3 linked regions of the Homo sapiens genome follow. The protein of the gene in region 1 purifies or fractionates together with the protein of each later gene. This does not show direct contact. Each region holds a gene or a part of one and is shown on either strand. Other genes may lie near its edges.

What was found. The genes of interacting proteins can lie anywhere in the genome.
Region 2: the proteins of FERMT1 (region 1) and SKIC3 fractionate together in Homo sapiens (co-fractionation; one large-scale study listed by BioGRID). This does not show direct contact.
Region 3: the proteins of FERMT1 (region 1) and RNASEH2B fractionate together in Homo sapiens (co-fractionation; one large-scale study listed by BioGRID). This does not show direct contact.

The regions. Positions count from the first base shown.
Region 1 is NC_000020.11:6,112,227-6,117,240, forward strand, and holds part of FERMT1 (fermitin family homolog 1), read right to left. Parts: intron 3,819-5,014; coding exon 3,585-3,818; intron 398-3,584; coding exon 251-397; intron 1-250. UniProt on the Homo sapiens protein: Involved in cell adhesion. Contributes to integrin activation. When coexpressed with talin, potentiates activation of ITGA2B. Required for normal keratinocyte proliferation.
Region 2 is NC_000005.10:95,526,506-95,531,519, forward strand, and holds part of SKIC3 (superkiller complex protein 3), read right to left. Parts: intron 3,725-5,014; coding exon 3,584-3,724; intron 2,598-3,583; coding exon 2,496-2,597; intron 1,648-2,495; coding exon 1,508-1,647; intron 1-1,507. UniProt on the Homo sapiens protein: Component of the SKI complex, a multiprotein complex that assists the RNA-degrading exosome during the mRNA decay and quality-control pathways.
Region 3 is NC_000013.11:50,943,749-50,948,762, reverse strand, and holds part of RNASEH2B (ribonuclease H2 subunit B), read right to left. Parts: intron 3,337-5,014; coding exon 3,231-3,336; intron 777-3,230; coding exon 695-776; intron 1-694. UniProt on the Homo sapiens protein: Non catalytic subunit of RNase H2, an endonuclease that specifically degrades the RNA of RNA:DNA hybrids. Participates in DNA replication, possibly by mediating the removal of lagging-strand Okazaki fragment RNA primers during DNA replication.

The DNA.
Region 1 (5,014 bases):
GTACTAAAATTTTGCATTCATTGGCAACATCAGATATACAATTCAAGTAATGAGTTATTAAACATGCTTGATGAAAAAAAGTCTGAAACACATTTCTGTTAATTCTAAACTTGACTAGATAGCCTTTCCTCATCACATCAGTTCTGCAATTTTATTTCTCCTTTGTTTGGTGGGGGTGGGAGGAGAGATATATTTCTCTCTTGAGTTTTACTGTACGTTCAAACAACAAAACACCTGTAACAAGTCTTACCTGATGAACCTGAAGCTGTTGGAGAACTCTCCAGGTTTAGAATATCTTCAATTATGGGTTCCTTATTATTTTTGTCTTTTTTCTTCTTCTTCTTAAAATAGTCACCAGACGGCTTTAACAAGGAAAGCTCTTCTGATCTTCTAATATCTAGAAATAAATATTTTTTAAAAATGAAGAAAAAGTAAAAAGAAAACTCCTTCTAAGACTCAGGGTCATTTTGTGCATTTAAAATCATTTCTCAGGAAATTTCTGAAAAGTAAATGGGACTAAACTGCATCCCTTTTGAAGAAACAGAAGGGGAAAGGGGAACAGAGACCTCCAAAGTAGGTGGGGGGAGAAAACGGTGGAGGGAGATTCAGTCTAGTGAAATTTCTGGTTAGAAAAATTATTATAAAAATATTTCAAATGTATCTAAAGCAAAGGGAATGGTATAATGTCCCCTTCATGGGCTCCCCAGCTTCAGTCATTACTAGCATTATGCTATTCTTGTTACCTATTTACCACCAACTTTACCTCCCTCTCCCCTTTCTTCCTGATATGGTTTGGATGTGTCTCCACCCAAATCTCATCTTGAATTCCCATGTGTTGTCAGAGGGGCCCAGTGGGAGGTAATTGAATCATGGGGGCAGGTCTTTCCTGTGCTGTTCTCATGATAGTGAATAAGTCTCATGAGATCTGATGGTTTTATAGGGTGTTTCCCCGCACAAGCTCTCTCTTTGCCTGCTGCCATCCATGTAAGACGTGACTTGCTCCTCCTTGCCTTCCTCCATGATTGTGAGGCCTCCCCAGCCATGTGGAACTGTAAGTCCATTAAACTTCTTTCTTTTGTAAATTGCCCAGTCTCAGATATGTCTTTATCAGCAGCATGAAAATGAACTAATAGACTTCCCTTCCTTGCTCCCTCTCCCTTTCCTTTTTCCAGTTTTTTAAACAACCAACAAAGGTCCTGCTTCCTTTTTTCTTTATAGATCACAGATCTTGAACGTCTTTCTTTTACACATTGCCCATCAGCTCATTTTATCCCTGTGGTGACACCCTCATGCCCTGCCCATTTCTTCTTGGTCCTCACCATTTCAGCACACCTGGCTTCTGGCGGAATCTAGACCATGCATCTTTCTGCCAGAGGCTTTGCTCTGATGGCTCACCAGGGTCTGCACTGCAACAGCCCACATATTCCGGGAATTAATGCTCCCCAAGAGCAACCTTCAGTGACTATCCAGGGTGCTGCATAAACATCCTTACCCTGAGGCTGTGTCTACACTGTCTCCCAGGGGTCACCAGCTGCTGAAGTGTAACCTGATTGGTGACACTCTTCTCTTTTCAGTCTTACTTCCCTGTCCCCAACAGTATTTCCTGGCATCACCTCCCAAATAAACTATTTGTACTTGAATCCTTATCTCAGGGTCTTCTTCTGGGAACTGAAACTATGGTAATCCCCATTTCTCCCATTAATCAAATATATTTATAATTGCTGATCAGAATTGCTGATAACCTTTAACTACACTAGTGGCTATCATTCCAGGTAAAAACCAATTAATTTGGACTTTTAGTTTCTGAGCAGCTTTGTTGAAGGTAAGTGCACTGATTCCATTAAGTTCTCTCATCATTTCGTTCATATACTGCTCAGTGTTGAGACTGAGCCTAGCAGTTTAGCTTGACTCTCCCCAGCAGCCAAGGATTGTCAGGTTGCAACACACGTGTGACCATTCCAAATGCATAATTTATACACAAACTCGGTCATGAATAAAAAATTTCACTGTGAGCACTAAAAGCAAAACAATGAAACAGAAACACCTGTATCTTCAAGGTTAAGATTTGTGTCTTTTCTGTTCTTCAAGGGAAAAACCACTAAACTGCTGCATTTGATTTCACTTCAATTGATAAGATATAAAATGCAATGATTAGAAATGCCACGCTGAGCCTTTAAAACTATTACAAAGAGATAATCAGGAAAAGAGAACATCTGACTGCTTCTGTTTACTTGAAAACTTTACATTTTTGGTATCAGCTGTGATGTGTGCTTCCAGTCCACTGTGGTGTATGCAATATACTATTTTATGTAATCATTTACTTTGCTTTCAAATCCTCATTAGAATATTACCAAAAACACAAGGTGTCCTCATGCTTGCCATTTGCACACCAGGGACAAGACTGCAACTTACATTCTGTAATGAAAGTTTCCATTCATTTGTTCACTCAACAGTTATTGTATGCTAGGCATTGTGACTGGAGTGAGGAATGCAGAGATGCTCAGGAAACGGTTTCTGCTCTCACCCTACTTCATATACCATACCAGCCCCCACTGCCCAACCCTGGCATTCCCAATCCTGCTCATACTTTTTCTCTTTTTTGGGGTACTATCCATCCCATTTTAACCTCTTATATTCTTTTTTAACTTGTTCCATTTATATTTTAAAATTTGTTACATTTACATTTATTGGTTAGTGTCTGTCTCTGCCTGCTAAAATGTAAGCTCCAGGTGGCAGGGATTTTAGCTCTGTATTGCTACTATATCCCTAGCACTCACCACAATGCCTGGGACACAGTAGGTGCTCAATAAATATTTGCTGAATGAGTGAATAGTTTATGGTTTAATGGGAAAAATAGATTACTCACTATATATCACTATATATTATCTATTCTGGGTTCAAATGTTGATTTTTGGTTTTGGAACCAATGAATACACCTATAATACTTTCAAAAATTATAAAATGAGAATACCTTCATGGGGTGTTTCCTTCCCTTTATGGAGTTTTATAAAGAAAAATTGGTTTGGGTAGTGTTGTCTTTACGACTGTTAAATTATAGGATACCAAATCTATAAATAATTAGGTTTAAATTCACAATTAAGTGTACTTTTCTGCTTAATCACTTCATAAGTGATTTTTATGGGCAGAGTTATTTACTTGAGCCAGGTCTTAAGCAATTAAGACTTTGGAACACCATTATCTCAAAAACAATAAAGACACATAGCTCTATGGTGATTAAGTATTTAATACAACTCTTTAAATCTTAAATACTGTACAATAATGTTTGAGTATAGCTTGGATCAATAAATTTTGGGGGGCAATCTTAGTGGTTTATCTTGTCTATTAACAAATCTCTTTTGGAATAGTTTTAAGCTTTGTGGAGATGTACCTGATTTATGCCAATAATGTTCCACTTGGCTTAACTCCACTTAAATGGCTGCAATACCCAGAAGGGCTTAAACATGTGCTTCCTAATAGGTGAGTGTTCTGTAGCAATTACTTGAAGTAGGCAGAATGCACACATAATTTTCCTGTCTAGCTTTGCAAGAGTCTACAGGGCACAGGGGCCTTTCCTGGGTACTTACTCAGGATTTTGCAGATATCACTGACAGCTTTAAAAACCACAGCTGAGAAGCTGACTCGCAACCTCACCATCTTCAAATTCGGCAGACGAAGGCGCAGCATTTTATGCTGAGGGGTGAAGAGAAGCTTTGCATCTGCCTGGACCCCATATTTGTCCAGGGTCCAGTGGGTTTTCAGAAGCCAGCAATGCTTCTGTTCCCACCAAAGAGCAAAGTCTGACCAGTCTTGGGATATATCTGCAAAAATGAAAGCACAATTAAGTAAAATGAGAGAGGGCCCAGCTTGGAGGGTCCTGGAGCTGCAGAGTCAATTTCATTGTGTGCGAAAATGGAAACCAACAACTGATCTCCAGCTCCTCATGGCCTTTTACAATTCAAGGCTTAACAACTTTTGGCTTCTTTCCAAAGTCTCCAGGGAAAAAATAGGGACTGGGATGGCATTAGGCAAAATACCTAATGTAGATGACAGGGTTGATGGGACAGCAAACCATCATGGTACATGTATACGTATATAACACACCTGCATGTTCTGCACATGTATCCCAGAACTTAAAGTAAAATAAAAAACATTTAAAAAATTAAATCAAATAAAAAAATTTAAAGATAAAATAATTAAAAAAGAAAAAGAAAAAATAATAGGGTCGGGTGCTGTAGCTCACACCTGTAATCTCAGCACTTTGGGAGGCTGATGCAAGCGATCACCTGAGGTCAGGAGTTCGAGACCAGCCCGGCCTACATGGCAAAACCCTGTCTCTACTAAAAATACAAAAATTAGCCAGGTGTGGTGGTGCGCACCTGTTAATCCCAGCTACTCCAGAGGCTGAGGCAGGAGAATCACTTGAACCCGGGAAGTGGAGATTGTAATGAGCCGAGGTCACACCATTATATTACAGCTTGGGCAACAAGAGCAAATCTCTGTCTCAAAAAAAAAAAAATGGAAAATAGGGACTAAATCTTACCATCATTTACATTTAGATACCGTGGAGGAAAAGAAACATAAAAATGTGTTCACAATGAATGCTAAAGTTCTGTTCGCTAAAATCTCTGTGCCATGGCCCTTTCTGAGAAAGCATCTGACTTTGTTTAATCAAGATTATTTCTCTTATAGAAATGTATCCTTATACCACTGTGTCACAAGGGAGTAGCAATAGCCTCCAATCAAAGTCCACACAGAAGTACTGTACAACTGACATTTCATTCTTCTCAGTAATCTCCAACTCTTTATCAGTACCACCATATCCAAAGTGTCCAAATTGAAGTCAGAGTTAAAATATTTTCTCCCTTTCAATGTTAGCACCAATGTCAATCTTTCCCCTCCTTTAACGTTGGCATTAAAATAGAATCTTTACCCTTCATCAATATTGGAGTCAATTTTCAATCTTTTATTTTGCAAAATGAAGAGTTACCAGTATCTTTGTTTTCTTATTTTTCTT
Region 2 (5,014 bases), on another chromosome or scaffold:
CTTCGATGCCCAGGCTAGAGTGCAATGGTCTGATCTTGACTCACTGCAACCTCTGCTTTCTGGCTTCAAGCGATTCTCCTGCCTCAGCCTCCCAAGTAGCTGGGATTACAGGTGCATACCACCAAGCCAGACTAATTTTTCTATTTTTAGTAGAGACAGAGTTTCACCATATTGGCTGGTCTCAAACTCCTGACCTCAAGTGATCCACCTGCCTCGGCCTCCCAAAGTGTTAGAGGCATGAGCCACTGTGCCCAGCCTGATTGCCTTTGTGTGATGTTAGTAGCCATTAACCCTTGATGCCTAGATCTATTAATTCACTGGGGATTGCAAAATGGTGATTTTCTGTCATTTTCTCTTATTAGACAGAATACTTCAACAAAGGCAAATTTCTCCTACCTTCGTTATTTCATTATCCTGAGGAATGATTCAGATAAAGGCAGGATAAATGCCTTTATTCTTCATAGTTGGGTTCTTAGCATCCCCCCAAACATTTGTTTTCTTGAGGACATTTGCTGAGTTTTCTGAATCATCATGAACACATGGATTTAAAATATTTGATCTGTTTCAACATACCACATTAGTAACGCCCTTTTTAGCCAGTAAGAATCTCTTTATGCTAGCTCTTGAGCCCTTTTGTAGTCTGAGCCCTTTTATAGTTTCTTGCTTTCTAGCATGACAAGGTGTTCTTGGTTCATCTTGTACATTTTCTATCTCAGACCTGGACTCTGCTAGTTCTCCAAAATAGCAGTCATTTGTTTTTTTGTGAAAACATTATTTGAAAAACCTTTATAAAGCATTCACACAAAACACATTATTGGTGGGATGGCAAAAAGAAAACAAGAAAATATTAATTGTTGAAAGATGCTGACAACGGTTCTGATTTTAAAGAAATATTATGAAATACAAAGCCCTTTGAAATACATAAAACTGATTTAAAAACTCAATTTTAATTTAGACCAGTAATAGTCTTTACCTGACAAAAATCTTTAGGGCATAATGCTATAATTCATAATTTACCAGTTATAGTTTTTTTCACTATGGACTTTCAAATTGCTTTAACTCAAAACACTAAGAAATCGGTTTCATTATGAAATATGAATCTTTCTTTGAATGAAACAAATAAACATTCTCTACCATGAAGCTAACAGTGTCCTTAATTATTCTTGTCAAATCTGCAGAACACTTCCTGAAGGAAAAAATTTGGAATCTCAAATTAATAATAATCAAGTAGTAATAACCTAAGAGGGCAAAAGGAAGAAACGAGAATGAAGTCTAGAACTAACGAAATAGTCTTATATGATGAGTACTATAAGTCCTTAATCAAAAAGCAAACAAATAACTTTAGAAGTTCCCAAATGTATGAATGACTTATAAAAGTGCAGATGTGGTGAATTCATACCTCTAACACAAAATCCATATAAGTAAATTTTGTGGTAGGCAGAGAATGGTTGTTGCCTGGTTGATTGGAAACTAACTAGAGTTGAAGAAAAAAACTTGACAAGTCTACCTGATCAAGCGTACGAATTGCTTCCTCTGAAGAGTCATAATCTGAGAGTTTAATCAAAGCCTCTGCTTTCAAATGAAGACAAAGATTCCTCTGATAAAGACTGTTACCAGACGCACCAAGATTATCTACGATCTTCAGAGCTGACAAAATTAAGGGTATCCAAATGAAGACAGCCATATCACTTCTGTTTATTTTTTCTTTTTTAAGGATGACATATAATAAATTGCAGATACAATAAGCATAAATTTCCAAAACAATATACATGAAGAATAACTCAAAGCTAAATATAAATTCTTCCCTGACTTCCTTATGGAAAGACCTGAATTTAAAACAGAACATATCTGAATTTAAAACCTCTATCTTCACACAACATATAATAAAACTGAATATCCTAAAAAACGACAATGGCTATCTATATTTGCTAAACAATAAAGGTTAGCCCACAACCAAAGCACCTGTAACAAATATAAGAAATTAAGGATACTGGAAGGGGAAAGCAGCTGAATTAGAATGGACCAAGGTGAACTGTTTCTTAGTTACAGGGAGCAAGCTACCAGGTGGGTCAGAAACAGTGAACCACTTTCATGATTTCCTATCCCCACCCCTCACCCTGTCACATTCAAATAGGCTCCAAGATGCCTAAGGTTTCCCCTCTCTATATGAGAGAAATTAAGAACTCATGTGTCTTGGACACACCAGAAACTTCCTTGTTACAAAGACAGAGGACCTCCACACCCAAGCCTAAACTGACTATGTCAATATTCCAAATGCAGGAAAATTTTGCTAAACATTCATTGTCAGTTTAAAAATAAACACACTAGTACACATGCATGCAGACTTTTATTTAAACTTATTGAAATTAAAATTAGCAATTTAAAATACAAAATATAGCATTTTGGTTTTTAAAAATCACTATCTTTGTCCTTTAAGATAAAAACAAATAGGGTTGGTCACCCTTATATGTCAACCCAAAAAGTATCAAAAATACCTTGACTGCATGAAAGAACAGCTTCTTTAGGTCTATGCATTTTGACTTGGGCTTCTGCCAGATGATACCATCCACTTGTGCAGACAGGGCTTTCCTTTAACCCTAAAAGGATAAAAACAATCACAAAAAACAAGGTTTCTGTGACTACATAGATGAACAGCACCAATGCCTACTCTCCAAATCAGACTCCTCCCCTCTTCATCTCTCATATCTCATCAGTCACAAAGTCACACTGATTCTCTGCCTCAATTCATTCCCCACCATACATTTTTCTCCATCTCCACGTCAGTTCAGACCTCCACCATCTTTATCCCAAATCACTACAAGTGCTTGCCATCCACCCCAATGCATTCTTTACACTGTAGCTAGAATATCTCTAAAAAGACAAATCAGATTATAAAATTCCCCTGCTAAAAATCTTTTACTGATTCCCCACTGTTGTCAGGATACTGTGCAAACTCCTTACCAAGTCTTGCTAGGCCCTTCTACAATCTCACTTCTTGTCCCCTCCTGTACATACACTTCATTCTCAAACCCTGGTGAACTACCTGCAGTTCTCTGAACAACAGTTTTCCTCTTAGCTCAGGCTATTTCACAGATTCATCTCTGCCTAAAATGTTCTTCCCATTCCCTTCAACCACCTACCTGGCTTGTATTTACCATTCAGATCTATAATTTGAATGTAGGTTCTTCCAGAAACATCATACCTAGTAAGACTAAGTTAAAGCCTAAGTTCCTAATGCATATATATCTACATGTCTGCCTTCCTCCCTCCCTCCCTCCCTCCCTCTCCCTCCCAATTTACTTTTTGCTTTGCTTTCTTTCTTTTCTTTTTTCTCTCTTTCTATATAGATATACCTATTTTACAAATGAAAACACTGACACACAGTAAGTTTAACTCTTCTGAGGTCTTGAAATTAGTGATAAGCAGAGTCAGAGTTCAAACCTAAGCAGAGTCCAAGGTATGCAGGTACATTTTTTCCCTTCCACCTTAGATAGACATTCCTTAAAGAAAGGCTCAAAGATAAATGCCTACTGACTGAATAATAATTATACTTCACGTTACATGCCATACACTGTACATTTACCTTCTGTTAGGTTCCTAACAGCATCTTCATACTTTTTGTCTTGTAATGCTTTAATGCCTAAGCCAATGAGGCCTGGACCACTTTTTGAATCCATTTCCACTAATCTACAACAATACTGCTGCCCCTCATCAGTAAGATTTCCTGGAATTAAAAGGAAAGGTTATTAGTATACATATATCGAGTTTCTAAATGCCCAAACCCATATTCTTAAATCTCAAAATCTGCCTTTATATTCTTATGCATTCTTCACCACATGCTGACTCCAGAAATTCAAAATTTAAATAGACCAGCAAATGCAGAAAATATTAACATTTAATTTAAATAATTATGATTTTTCATCTTCTTAAATACTGGAAGTAGAAACCACTTTAGGATTTCAGACAAGAAACCTGCTACTTGCCAGTAGACTAAGCCACATAGCCTACTGCTTGCCAGCTGTAACAATTTGGTTGTCAAATGAAGGAGCCCTTGTCAAAGCAGAGTGTCTTCCTCAAGTTCTCTTCCTGGGCAACCATGCGCTGCTAGAGACATGTTAGTCAGATCCAGCAGACTCTTCCAGCATCCAAGGATCACAAGATAGGCGGGTTACTCATCAGGACACTGCACAAAGACTTAGTCACATTCCTCTTAAGTCTACAAATTTACCAGTACATTTCCACATTTTTCTAAAACTATCTTTTTCTATATAAGTGAATTGTGACACTTATGAGATAGTCATCCAATGCCTACATTTATTTTATTTTCAAATTTATTTTGGTAAAATAGTTTAGAAAACATTATATATTTTGTAATATTTCCATTTTCCCCAATCTCAATCCCACAAAAGCATCAAAACAAACAAAAAATTGTAATTTCTGTTTTAGAATAAATTGTGAATAGCATTCACAAGTTTAATAAATCATTTAATCACATAGGAGAATTCTTAAAAAGACAAACTACAACTTGAAGCAATAAATATGGGAAACAAAAAAAATTCCTGAAAAAAAAAGACCCGATGCTTTAATAACTATATAAAACATAGAAGCCCAAACCACATGTAGAACCACTGTTTCAGTTACAGATGTCAAAGGTAAATTATTTGCATAATACCATGTAGCTCATATATTTCAAATTTTAAAAACCATTTGCAAACCAATGTATAATCCATTAGTAATATGTAGTAATATGTTATATACTGATTTAGAAATCCAAGTTGGCACCAAAAATGAAAAGAATTAATAATGGCTAAAGAGTTAAAACTTCAGTATATTTGGCAAAATATGAAAACAAATTGGAAGAAATACTACTTTGATTAGTAAGCCAGTGAAAAAGACACAAGCCTGCTACTATTATGCTTCCAGGCATGAACTTCCTTGTCAATATTTTCTCACCATAGCTTCCATAAATATGAATTCCAAAAATAGATATGTCTAGTTCCATACACCCTATACC
Region 3 (5,014 bases), on another chromosome or scaffold:
CATGACTCAGAGGATAAAAAGGATTTATAAGGATCAGGAAAAGCTATTAAATCATCACACACATAAAATCTTAACAACAAAATTAAGTAACGATTTTGCAAAAATCTAGAAAATAAACACTTCTAACACTTCTTTTTCAACTTAAAGTCTAAATGTATAAGCTCTTTATAAAGAAAGGAACATACATTAAACCATTCTTAAAACCCTTCTTCTGCCCCTCAAAGACACAGATTGTGTTTCATATTACTTTGACTTCCAAGTCTTTGGCATAAAGTCCCTTTAGTGAACATCTAGTGATAATAGTGAAAATGATATCAATATTTTGTAAATTAAAAAAAAGTCTATATTCCATCTACTCTTTCCATCCCTCCTTTCTTCCTCTTAAAACGATCACAAAGAACCAAATTAGTTAAGTATAATTGAGGATAAAATTTTAACATAGTTAATCCTCTAAAATCAGACCAAGCCATAATTCCAATCTTGACATTCACTAGTTCCTGCAATCCGTATCCATCAAATCAGTTCATTCCAATCATCCATTAAAAATCATCCCCAAAGCACAAAGTATATGACATAGCTGAAGAATAATCTTGTATCATAAACAGTGATATGATAAGCCATAAGGAAACCCCACTGCTGGGGAAACCAAGAAGCAAATGGTACTTCATTATGACTGAAGATAATCAATACTCACTTTAAGTATTTAGATAAGTCATCACTTAATTCTTTAGGGATGTAGTCAGATATCAGACCATGGGCATAACGAATATAATCCTCTGAAAGAAACAGAAGGAGGAGTGAAAGCAAAAAAAAAAAATAGTAATTATGGTGGTTTTATAGTCAAATTGACCTGAATTCAAATTCTGACCCTATCTGGATAAAGGGAACTCACTTAAGCTCTAGCCTCAGTTTTCTCATTTGTAAAATGGGGATAGTAATATCTATCGGTCAGACTAGTGGGAAGATATGAGGGATGAGATATGACATGTGATGATACCAAAGATATAAGATAAAACAAGTATAATACAGTAGATGCTCCCTAAATGACATTAAAAACAAAAACTCAGGGTTGCTTTCTTATTTGAAACCACTGAATACAAATAAAGTTTAAAAATCATCTACAACAATATGAAATAGTCATGTCTTTTTTAAAAGGGTAATCTTTTCTAAGCCTGCTTCAATAAAGAATAAATCTAATTATTCAACAGTAATGAGTGTACTCATTTAAGAGAAATAAAATACCATGTCTCTACTACTAGGTATTTGCTTTATAAGAACCCTGAAATATATATATATAGTTCTATACATACATATTGTTCTATATACATAGTTCTACATACACACACACACACACACACACACACACACACACACACTCCCAAACTAATAAAATACTTAAACTTAAACAACTAACTCAGCAGAATTTATCATCATTAATTCTAAAGCATTTGGATTCTCAGTACTAAAATGCAGCTCTGGCAGCAATTAGAAATACAGTTACATAAGAAGACAATAAAATGTTTCAAAACTCTGTTCCTGAATTCAGTATTTTATGTAGAATACAAGCAGATAATCAAACTTAATCATAAGATGGGATAACCACGTGGGGATATAAAGCACCAAAAGCAGACCCCAGGTTTGCTGCTGGGATATTCACTCACTTCCTTTTTTCCATTCTCCTCTGCTCTCAAGTCAAAGTAACAATTTGCCTCAGTATTACATAGAAAATGACTGCCGTCTGGGGACCACCTGATGTCAAAAAGTCTTCAGTAAGAGATTTTCATTGTCAATGGAGAACTGAAAGTTATCATTTGACCCTTCTTAAAATTGCTCATGGATCTGGGATAGTCATTATCCAATGAGTCATGACTAGACCAAGAAAACTATTTTAAGAAAGTCAACATATAGTTCATTTGCTGCTTCTGGTACCAAACCAACCTAAATATCTAAAAAATGAAATAATGTAAAATATGTAAAGTTTACTTTATGGTCAGGACACTAAATGGCAATATAGCCAAGCCCAGAACCTTAATATGTAGAGTACTGGTAAAAGCACTAGACTTAGAACAGAAGATCTTGAGGATAAGTTACCTACCTCTCCATTTAAAAAATGAGATGATCTGTCTAAATAACCTCTAACATCCCTTCTCCTACTTTTAAAACAAAATCTATGGTTCCATCCATCCATCCATGGATGCATCTATCCACCCACCTATCTATCCATTAATCATCTATCTCAATCCCTCATCTTCTATTGTTAAAGCCAATTAAAGACACTGACAGCTGGTAACTCAGTATGGCAAAGGTGCTGTCCACCACTCCCAGAATGGCAGTAGCCAACTACCTATACATGCAAGGTAGATTCCTGCAAATCAGATTGCCTGAATTACTATCAATCACAAACAGGCCACTATTCCTAGTTTTTATTTATGTAATGACTAAAGCCATATGTATACCCTGAATAAGGGAACAATGAATTGGAGTTTAACGTCAGAATAATTTCTGTCTCACCATTTGAGATTGTTAACTGCATTATATAGCTGTTCTTATTCAACTATACATATAAAAATAAGAGGACTCTACTTGGAAAAGAAAATAATATACCTTTTTTAGATTATAAAAGAATAACCTAAAAGAAAAATTGCCAAGTAAATCAATTTTCATCTAAAATCAAAATATATTGATCCCTGTATCAGGAAACATGCATCTTGAGAAGAAAATGCAAACAGATGCAGCCACTGGAACAGTACAACTGTGCCACAGGAACAGTATCACAAAAAGATTACAAGTGTGGGCTTCAGAGACAAGCTCCATAAGTAGCTCAGCTTTGGCATTTACTAGTTGTGAGACTTTGCACAGGGCCTCAAGATGCTCATTATGAAATTTACTGGGAGGGTTGGATGAGATCATGTTTGTATAGTGGCAACTTAGCAAAGGGCCTGGCACACAATACACCCTCAATAAATGATAGCCAGGGTTGTTACTACTATCAATGTAAAAGAAATATTTGCTGAATAAATAACTTAAGTATCAATGAATGACAGAAGTAACCTATGGTAGAAATATTCTTCGCTTCTGAAATAAGATGCACACCTGCCACAATGTGTATGAGGCATTGGTAGGAATATGAGGCTTCTGTGATATTAAGATTTTTAAATCCTAAGATAGGCATTTACACATAAGCAACTTACTCCAGACAAAAATCTTTTCTGATAAAATGCTTTACTTACCTTCCTTGTCAGTGGAAGCTTGGTCACCAGAGAAAAATGCAGTTGACTGTACCCGGGAACTGACATTCACATTATTGGTTTTTAATGCTGCCACAGTTTGATTAACCTATGAAGCAACCAAGAGGGGAAAGGCAGGGTATTTTCAACTTAACTTTAGAAATCTATGAATTCATAGGTGGCCTTCAGACCATTTAAGAGATCTGCAAAGAAGTATTTGAGAACCTAGAAGTATCTTCACCAGACACCAGAAGATGAGAAATGGTTGCCCATTTGAAGAAAGGCTGAGTGGCAGCAATATCTGGATGATCTCAATACATGGACTTCCATGGCCTACACAATATGAGAAGGCAACATATTGTGATAACTGAGAGCTGACTCTGGAGTCAGGCTGCTGGGCTTGGCTCTGTAACCACGGCTAGTTACTTAACCTTTCTGTGGCTCTATCTGTGAAATGGGGGAAAAAAATAGCATTCACCTCATAAGACTACTGTGAAAATTAAATGAGGTAATATATGTAAATAAAGCCCTTACAATAGAACCTGGCACAAAATTTATATGTAATAACTTCCTAAATAGAATAATATAAATTTCCCACTTCCTAGGAAATATAATCAGTAAGTATAAACTCCTCTTCGCTATTCATGTCATTTTCCTTGGCTAAGAGCAAAAGTAAACATCAAGGATTCTGCTCCGCATTTATTCTCATTCTTCGCCTACATGGAATACTACTACTACTATATCACAAATAAAAAATGAAACATGGCACTCTAAATCTTTCCACTACTTTGCACATTAGGAGACTGATTATTCTACTGGACTCATTTCCAGCTTCCCAGGCTTTCAATGAGCCTGGTAACATGGTATGACAAATAAACACAATTTATTTATTATTTATTATTATTTATTTTTATTTATTATACTTTAAGTTCTGGGATACATGTGCAGAACATGCAGGTTTGTCATACAGGTATACATGTACCACAGTGGTTTGCTGCACCCATCAACCCATCATCTAGGTTTTAAGCCCCACATGTATTACATATTTGTCCTAATGCTCTCCCTCCTCTTGCCCCTAACCCCCGAAACAGCCCCGGTGTGTGATGTTCCCCTCCCTGTGTTCATGTGTTCTTACTGTTCAACTCCCACTTATGAGAGAGAACATGCAGACAAACATGACTTTTCACACAAAAGATGGAAGAGAATCTTAGGAAACAGTACTACAACTACTGGTATCCACTGATCTTGCAAAAACTTTATCATTATTCTATATGGTTTAGCGAGATTCTTAATCAATGTGAAAGTACATATTATCCTTAGACCAGTGGCTTTCAAAGTTTTTTTTTTATCACAACCCATAGTAAGAAATATACAGCAACCCAATACTTAAACACATATAAATACATTTCACAGAGCCATACTTAATACCTGCCCTTCCTCTGCTATATTTTAACCCATCCCATCCCATCCCGTCCCATCCCATCCCGTCCCGTCCCATCACGTCCCGTCCGTCCCGTCCCATCCCATCCCGTCCTGTCCCGTCCCATCCCATCACAATCTGTTTCATTCCAAGAGAAATACTGGTTGTTACCTACTAAATTGATTTGAAATTCACTGCCCCAGTCCATCCATTAGGTCAAGATTCTTAGAATCACTAAGATACAGGGTTTGCCTGTAAGATGACCCCTCATCAGTGTCCAGACCCTGAGAGCAGGACATACTTCCTCTAAACCTGAACACCTTTGCCTGGCTGTGTCCCTGGGTCCCTTTGCCTGGCTGTGTGTAAG